2 linked regions of the Homo sapiens genome follow. The protein of the gene in region 2 interacts with the protein of the main gene of each other region in a biochemical or structural test. Each region holds a gene or a part of one and is shown on either strand. Other genes may lie near its edges.

Region 1 (4,284 bases), on a different chromosome or scaffold from region 2:
GGAGAATACTAGTGTGGTGGGGAAAAGTTACCTCCCCATCCACAGTGTGAAGGGGCTTGACCTCTCCCTTCTGAGTAAGGAAGAGAATGGGGTGTGCTTTCAGGGCAGGAGTTCTTTTCCAGATTCTTAGGTCTCCCAAATAACATTCCTAAGCCATGTCTTGCAGCATCATGTGTATCTGAGGAACTGTGATAATTCATGTTTGGTGTTTGTTTTTATGTTACACAGTACAGAAAGTTGTATAAGCTCCTAGAATTGTCAAATGGGAAGAGTCCTAGAGATTCTTATTTCATCAATTCCTTGATTTCTCAGCTGAGAAAACTAAAACCCACAGAGATGAATTGACTTGGCAGAGATAATATTTCTTGCTTATGATTTATAGGAAGCCAAACTTAAAACAAGTCTATAGTTGCTCATTCCTAACAATATTAACCATGCTGTTTACATAATAGTATCTGAAAACTAATTGCCTACTTTAAATGAAAAGAGAAAAGTACGAGTTTGCTCCAAAACATCTCTTAAATTTATAATTAAATGACGTGAGCTAGTTTTATAAAATATTTTATTTACAGTAGAGCTTTACAAAAATAGTCTTAAATTAATACAAATCCCTTTTGCAATATAACTTATATGACTATCTTCTCAAAAACGTGACATTCGATTATAACACATAAACTACATTTATAGTTGTTAAGTCACCTTGTAGTATAAATATGTTTTCATCTTTTTTTTGTAATAAGGTACATACCAATAACAATGAACAATGGACAACAAATCTTATTTTGTTATTCTTCCAATGTAAAATTCATCTCTGGCCAAAACAAAATTAACCAAAGAAAAGTAAAACAATTGTCCCTCTGTTCAACAATACAGTCCTTTTTAATTATTTGAGAGTTTATCTGACAGAGACACAGCATTAAACTGAAAGCACCATGGCATAAAGTCTAGTAACATTATCCTCAAAAGCTTTTTCCAATGTCTTTCCTTCAACTGTTTATTCAGTATTTGGCCAGTACAAATAAAGATTGGTCTCAACTCTCTCTTTCATTAGTCTCAAGTGTTCCTATTATGCACTGAGTTTTCAGACCTTCCCAACTGGCATGTGTTTTAAGTGTGAGTTTCTTTCTTTGGCTTCAAGTGGAGTTTCACAACATTTATGAAACATACTGAGCTCCTCCATGTGGCTGGATCTCTGTGACTCCCCACCCAACAATATTCCCCCGGATGTGACAAGACTCTGCTCCTCCGGTCTCTCTTATCTCTTCATTGCTAAGAACACTATCCCAGATATTGAAGCCTGTGAGTCTCCCAGAGAAGGCTAATGTTTCATCAAAGCCACCACCCACACAGCAGCCATTCTTTTCTTGGCCAATCTGCAGGATTCCTCCCTCAGGAACAATGTGACCTGTGGCCATCTCAACAGTGGTAGCCGCCAGTTCACCATTTACCCACAAGGATGTGAGCCCTTCCTCTGAATTCCAGGTGCCGCACAGGTGGGTCCACCTTCCCAGGGAAACCATGGCTTCAGCAACCAGTTTGTTCTCCTCTCCACCCACCACAAACACTATGGATTGGTAGCTGAGATACAGCTGGATTTCATATGGATTCCTCTTTGTGCCATAGGAAAACAGGATGGTTTTGTTTAATACATCTGTGGCTTTGACCCAAATGCAGGCACTAAAAGACTCAAGCCTCATTGGTCTCACTGGATGCACGCTTCCAAAAATCTTCTTGGAACGCATTGGGAATAAAATAGCTGTTTCACAACCTAGAGTAGCAAGAAAATAAGAAGAATATTAAAGAAAATATAAATTAATTCAGAATTATTCTGGCATTAGTTATTTAACATAAGAATTTTAATTATTACAATTGAAAGCTATGTGAAACCCTACATTACGACTTAAGAAGCTTCCACTGTAATCTCTGCAGAGCAAAGAAAATGAGAAAAAGGAAAGCCAATTGTCTTATCCAATGAAGCATCTAAATGAAGAGAAAGCACGCAAATAGAAGAGCCAACTAGTCCAAACCCACAAAATAATAAAAGCCATAACTACCTCCCCTTCCAATTTGCATATTTTCTTTGTTACTGCTTTTTTTTAAAAAAGTTGAATCACTATCAGTTAACTTCAGACAATAATTCTATAATTTCCAAGAATTCAGAACCCAACCTGGTTCTCTCTTTTTGCCACCACCAAGTTCCTAAAATAATAAACCTGTGAAATTCAGTAGACCTAGTTCGCTCCATTTAGCCTTTACCAACATGCATTTTTCAGCAAAATTCTAGGATAGTGATGTTATTGCAGAATACATTTTTTTTTTTTTTTGAGACAGAGTCTCACTCTGTCACCCAGGCTGGATTGCAGTAGTGCGATCTCGACTCACGGCAACCTTCGCTTCCCAGGTTCAAGCGATTCTCCTGCCTCAGCTTCCGGAGTAGCTGGGACTACAGGTGCACACCACTGCGCCCAGCTAACTATTGTATTTTTTTTTTAGACACGGGGTTTCACCATGTTGGCCAGGTTGGTCTTGAACTCCTGACCTCAAGATCCGCCTGCCTCAGCCTCCCAAAATGCTGGGATTACAGGCATGAGCCACCACACCTGGCCTGCAGAATACATTTTAATACACCAAATGTTCTCAGATATTTGTAAACTTTGCAGAGTTTTTAGAAAACTACCTTTGAAAGGCAACAATGTATAATAATGATGACTAAGCTTATTGGGCATTCACTATGTATCAGATACTGTTCTAATCATTTTGTTTGTCATTTTAATCCTTATGCCAACCATAAGAGATAGTCTTTTACATTCCTATTTTACAGATGAGAAAACTTAGGTAAAAGTAACTTATCTATGTTTACATAGCTGATAAGCAGTAAAACTAGAGTTTGAATTTTTGCAGTCTGGTCACAGAGGCCACGCCCTTAATCAGCACACTACAGTGCCTCTTATTAATAGAACCCCTAGATTTCTCTAGGAGGGCTAGAATCCAGATGGTGTTACTACTAATGAGCCATGCAACTTTGGATGAGCACCATAATTTCCTCTAGGCTTTAGCGTTATCTAAAAAAGGCCCTTCCATTCTGCTCCTAATATTCTGCAAGTCTGTAAGCAGCAAGTATGTAGCACTTAAGAGCTGAATAGACCAAAAATGTGTTTAAAAATTCTACCTTGTCCACATGCTTATAATTACTATTTAAGCAGTAATTGAAAATCTTTAAGAGAAGTACATTCTTTCAAGGGGCCTGGTTGGAGAACATGTTTCTGCTAAAGAGCACTTGGGAGGGGGACTTTCAAATTTGAGGTGGAAAGCTCAGTAAGTTTCCACCATTGTCCATCTCAAGGCGACTTAGCCATTTGGGAAGCTGGAGATGCTGAAACGAAAACCTTTTACGTGTCCCTGGGAAAGAACAGGTGAGCTCTGCATCTATATACATAAATATATATATATGTATGTATACGTATATATACACACATATATACATATGGATATGTATGTATGTATACATACATATATGTATATAAATGTGTGTGTATATATATGTGTGTATGTGTATGTAGGTATTTTTTTAAAAACACCTAAATTAGGGCAGGTATAACAACCTAAAGAAGATATGCCATAAGACAGCTTTGAAAAGCAAACTCCCAGAATGGTTCCAGAATAACTGGTAAAGAGAAAGAACTTGCAGAAACCAAACATCCATGTAAAAGTGTGGTAAACTATGTCAGATTCCTACAAGTGGCTCAGGGGTAGGCTCTATCCTGAAAACATTAAACAAATATGAACCTTATCCTTTAGTGTTAGGGATAGTCAAATAAAATATTGGCATTCAGATAATCATATAAAAGTAACTACAATACTAAAACACAAAACTGGCTCTGTCATGCTTTGATACTTTTTCACTAAATAATTTGAACTTTTGAAGATTTTTTAAAATTAATTTTTAATGAGGCAGTGATTCTATTTTCAAATGAAATTGCTAGGTACATCTTTTCTTCCAGCTGTGTTAATTAAAATCAAATAAAAATCACTGAAAAAAATCACCATATCCATGGGCATTTGATATAGTCTCTATAAAGTTTCAATAAAGTAGTGTTCAATCACACCTGTAATCCCAGCACTTTGGGAGGCTGAGGCGGGTGGATCACAAGGTCAGGAGATCGAGACCATCCTGGCTAACACGGTGAAACCCCGTCTCTACTAAAAATGCAAAAAATTAGCTGGGTAAGGTGGCGAGCACCTGTAGTCCCAGCTACTCAGGAGGCTGAGGCAGGAGAATGGAGT
Region 2 (3,500 bases):
AAATCATTACAAATATAAGTATTTACAGGATTTTAAAGTTAGAATATATTTGAATGCATGGGTAGAAAATATCATATTTTAAAACTATGTATATTTAAATTTAGTAATTTTCTAATCTCTAGAAATCTCTGCTGTTCAAAAGGTGGCAGCACTGAAAGTTGTTTTCCTGTTAGATGGCAAGAGCACAATGCCCAAAATAGAAGATGCAGTTAAGAATAAGGGGCCCTGAATGTCATGAAGGCTTGAGGTCAGCCTACAGATAACAGGATTATTACAAGGATGAATTTCCACTTCAAAAGTCTTTCATTGGCAGATCTTGGTAGCACTTTATATGTTCACCAATGGGAGGTCAATATTTATCTAATTTAAAAGGTATGCTAACCACTGTGGTTTTAATTTCAAAATATTTGTCATTCAAGTCCCTTTACATAAATAGTATTTGGTAATACATTTATAGATGAGAGTTATATGAAAAGGCTAGGTCAACAAAAACAATAGATTCATTTAATTTTCCTGTGGTTGACCTATACGACCAGGATGTAGAAAACTAGAAAGAACTGCCCTTCCTCAGATATACTCTTGGGAGAGAGCATGAATGGTATTCTGAACTATCACCTGATTCAAGGACTTTGCTAGCTAGGTTTTGAGGTCAGGCTTCAGTAACTGTAGTCTTGTGAGCATATTGAGGGCAGAGGAGGACTTAGTTTTTCATATGTGTTTCCTTAGTGCCTAGCAGACTATCTGTTCATAATCAGTTTTCAGTGTGAATTCACTGAATGTTTATAGACAAAAGAAAATACACACTAAAACTAATCTTCATTTTAAAAGGGTAAAACATGACTATACAGAAATTTAAATAGAAATAGTGTATATACATATAAAATACAAGCTATGTTAGGACCAAATGCTCTTTGTCTATGGAGTTATACTTCCATCAAATTACATAGCAATGCTGAATTAGGCAAAACCAACATTTAGTGGTAAATCCATTCCTGGTAGTATAAGTCACCTAAAAAAGACTTCTAGAAATATGTACTTTAATTATTTGTTTTTCTCCTATTTTTAAATTTATTATGCAAATTTTAGAAAATAAAATTTGCTCTAGTTACACACCTTTAGAATTCTAGAATATTAAAACTGTAAGGGGCCTCCATCCCTCTTACTCATTTGTAGTCTAGGAAATTGAGATTTTGATACACCTAAGGTCACGCAGCTGGGTAGATATACAGCTGTCACAAGAGTCTAGATCAGTTAGCACATGCTTTCTACTCTTCGATTATTAGTATTATTAGCTAATGGTCTTTGGCATGTTTTTGTTTTTTATTTCTGTTGAGATATAGCCTTTACATTTGTACACAAATGTGACTATGTCTTGGCAATGCACTTCATACACAATGACTAATCTATACTGTGATGATTTGACTCAAAAGGAGAAAAGAAATTATGTAGTTTTCAATTCTGATTCCTATTCACCTTTTGTTTATGAATGGAAAGCTTTGTGCAAAATATACATATAAGCAGAGTAAGCCTTTTAAAAATGTTCTTTGAAAGATAAAATTAAATACATGAGTTTCTAACAATTAGAAAAGAAAAAATTAAAACATGAAATGATAACAAAAGTAAACAAAAGATACTTTCAAAGCAGTGAACAAAACATTTTGACATAAGCCATAATATAAATTATAATATAAAAAATAAAAACCATAGTATAAATTGTCAGCCTTTGAGTTGGCTACAAATTCAATTTAATGACAGAAGAGAAGGGATGCTGGAGGTAAATTCTTAGGGTTTCTATCTCATAGAGTTTGCTCTTCTGGTTCTCTAGACTGCCAAAGAACATAAAGATGTGCGAGGGGACCTAGCTGTAGTAAAAGCAATCCTATAACAAGAAAAACTCTAAAACAGTGCCCCTTACGATTTTCTACTGAAATTTCTCTAATAGTAGAGGTGTAAAATAAGAAGTTAGAGAATAATGCAAAGGGGGCCCACCACAGACGGAACATTTCTTTTCTCTTAAGACTCATGTGATTTTTGCATCTTACTCCATAATATATTTGTGGTTGCGTTAATATGACAATGTCTGCAATTAAACACCAGTAAGCAAAATTGATACATCAGAATGACTTGCAGGGCTTATCATGCAGTTTGGTTTACATCCCTACTCCACTGCCATTTACTTGAGCGTGAATGAGACACAAAAGATTATTTGCCTCCCATAATCCAACTTTACACATAAATAACACAAGGCTAAAGAAAACCAGAACTCAAATTCACCACGCATAGGAGTGATAACAAAAATATTTAACAGTCAGTATGGGTGATTACTGGCCAATCAGAATACATCACTGATACATCGAAATGGATGCAGGCCACTATGACTAACTTGTGGGTATCATTTCTATGATCACCCTAAAACAGAGTTGGGAAAATATCTATTAACTGGTCTCTCTGGTTTGAATTCTCAATATGTATCTTAATATGAAATAGCTCATTAAAACTTCATGTGTAACTATTTCAGCATTGTTGTCAGCTACTCTTTATTCCACTTCTGTACAGTATTTATTCAACCAAGCTGCTGCTTTCAATGAAGGTCACTTGTTCCTTCAGGGACACATATACTCCCACCTATCCTTTAATTTTGAATGGTTTGTCAGGAAAATTTACTTTCTCTTGAGTTGAAAAACTTGACAGGAAGCAAGAAATAATACAGTCCTAGCCTCTTTCCAATAACATCTGATTTCTCCATTCTCAAACTACACTTCTCAAGGAACCAGATATTTACTCTCATCTGGGAAGATGCCTCTTATGTTTTCCTTTTACTTCCTGGTTATCATGTGGTTGCATTTTCCAAGTTCTTATCATTGAATTTATGAGAGCCTATCAAAATTTATTTTCTTTCATTTATATTCTAATAATTGAAATGTGAGATGAAAATAACATTTCACTTATGAAAAACCCTTCTCTTGATGAATCCTTCCATGTGTTAGTTATCTATTGCTGTGTAACAAATTAAAACTTAATGGCTTGAAACAAATATTTGTTTTCTCATAGTTTATGTGGCTCAGGAGCCTGGGCATGGTTCAGCACAGTGTTTTTGGTCAGAATTCCTCATGAGGCTGCAATCAAGGTGTAGACCAGGGCTGTAGTCATCTATCTCAATATTCAACTCAGAAAGGGATCCACCTTAGATCCTCACTGGCTGTTATCAGGACCTATCACTTCCTAACCACATGGACCTCTCCATAGCACTGCTTACAACATTACAGTCTGTTTCCCACGGAGCAAGAAATCAGAAAGTGTGAGATGAAGTACCCAAAATGGAAGCCACAGGTTTGTTTTTTTATTTTAATATATATAGCCTAGTTTCAAAAGCGATGTTACCTCTGCCTACACTCATGAGGAGGGTATTATACAAGGGCATACATACCAGAAAGCAGGGATCACTGGAAGCCATTTTACAGGCTGCCTGATCCAAGTCATAAACTAGGTGTTTTTAATGT

Evidence for each region. Proteins that work in one complex are often made in the same cells at the same time.
Region 1: the proteins of FGF7 (region 2) and PTX3 form a complex in vitro, tested with the Homo sapiens proteins (one study listed by BioGRID).

The regions. Positions count from the first base shown.
Region 1 is NC_000003.12:157,439,850-157,444,133, reverse strand, and holds the end of PTX3 (pentraxin-related protein PTX3 precursor), read right to left. Parts: intron 1,769-4,284; coding exon 1,155-1,768; 3' UTR 501-1,154; downstream 1-500.
Region 2 is NC_000015.10:49,485,742-49,489,241, forward strand, and holds the end of FGF7 (fibroblast growth factor 7 precursor), read left to right. Parts: 3' UTR 1-3,034; downstream 3,035-3,500. UniProt on the Homo sapiens protein: Plays an important role in the regulation of embryonic development, cell proliferation and cell differentiation. Required for normal branching morphogenesis. Growth factor active on keratinocytes.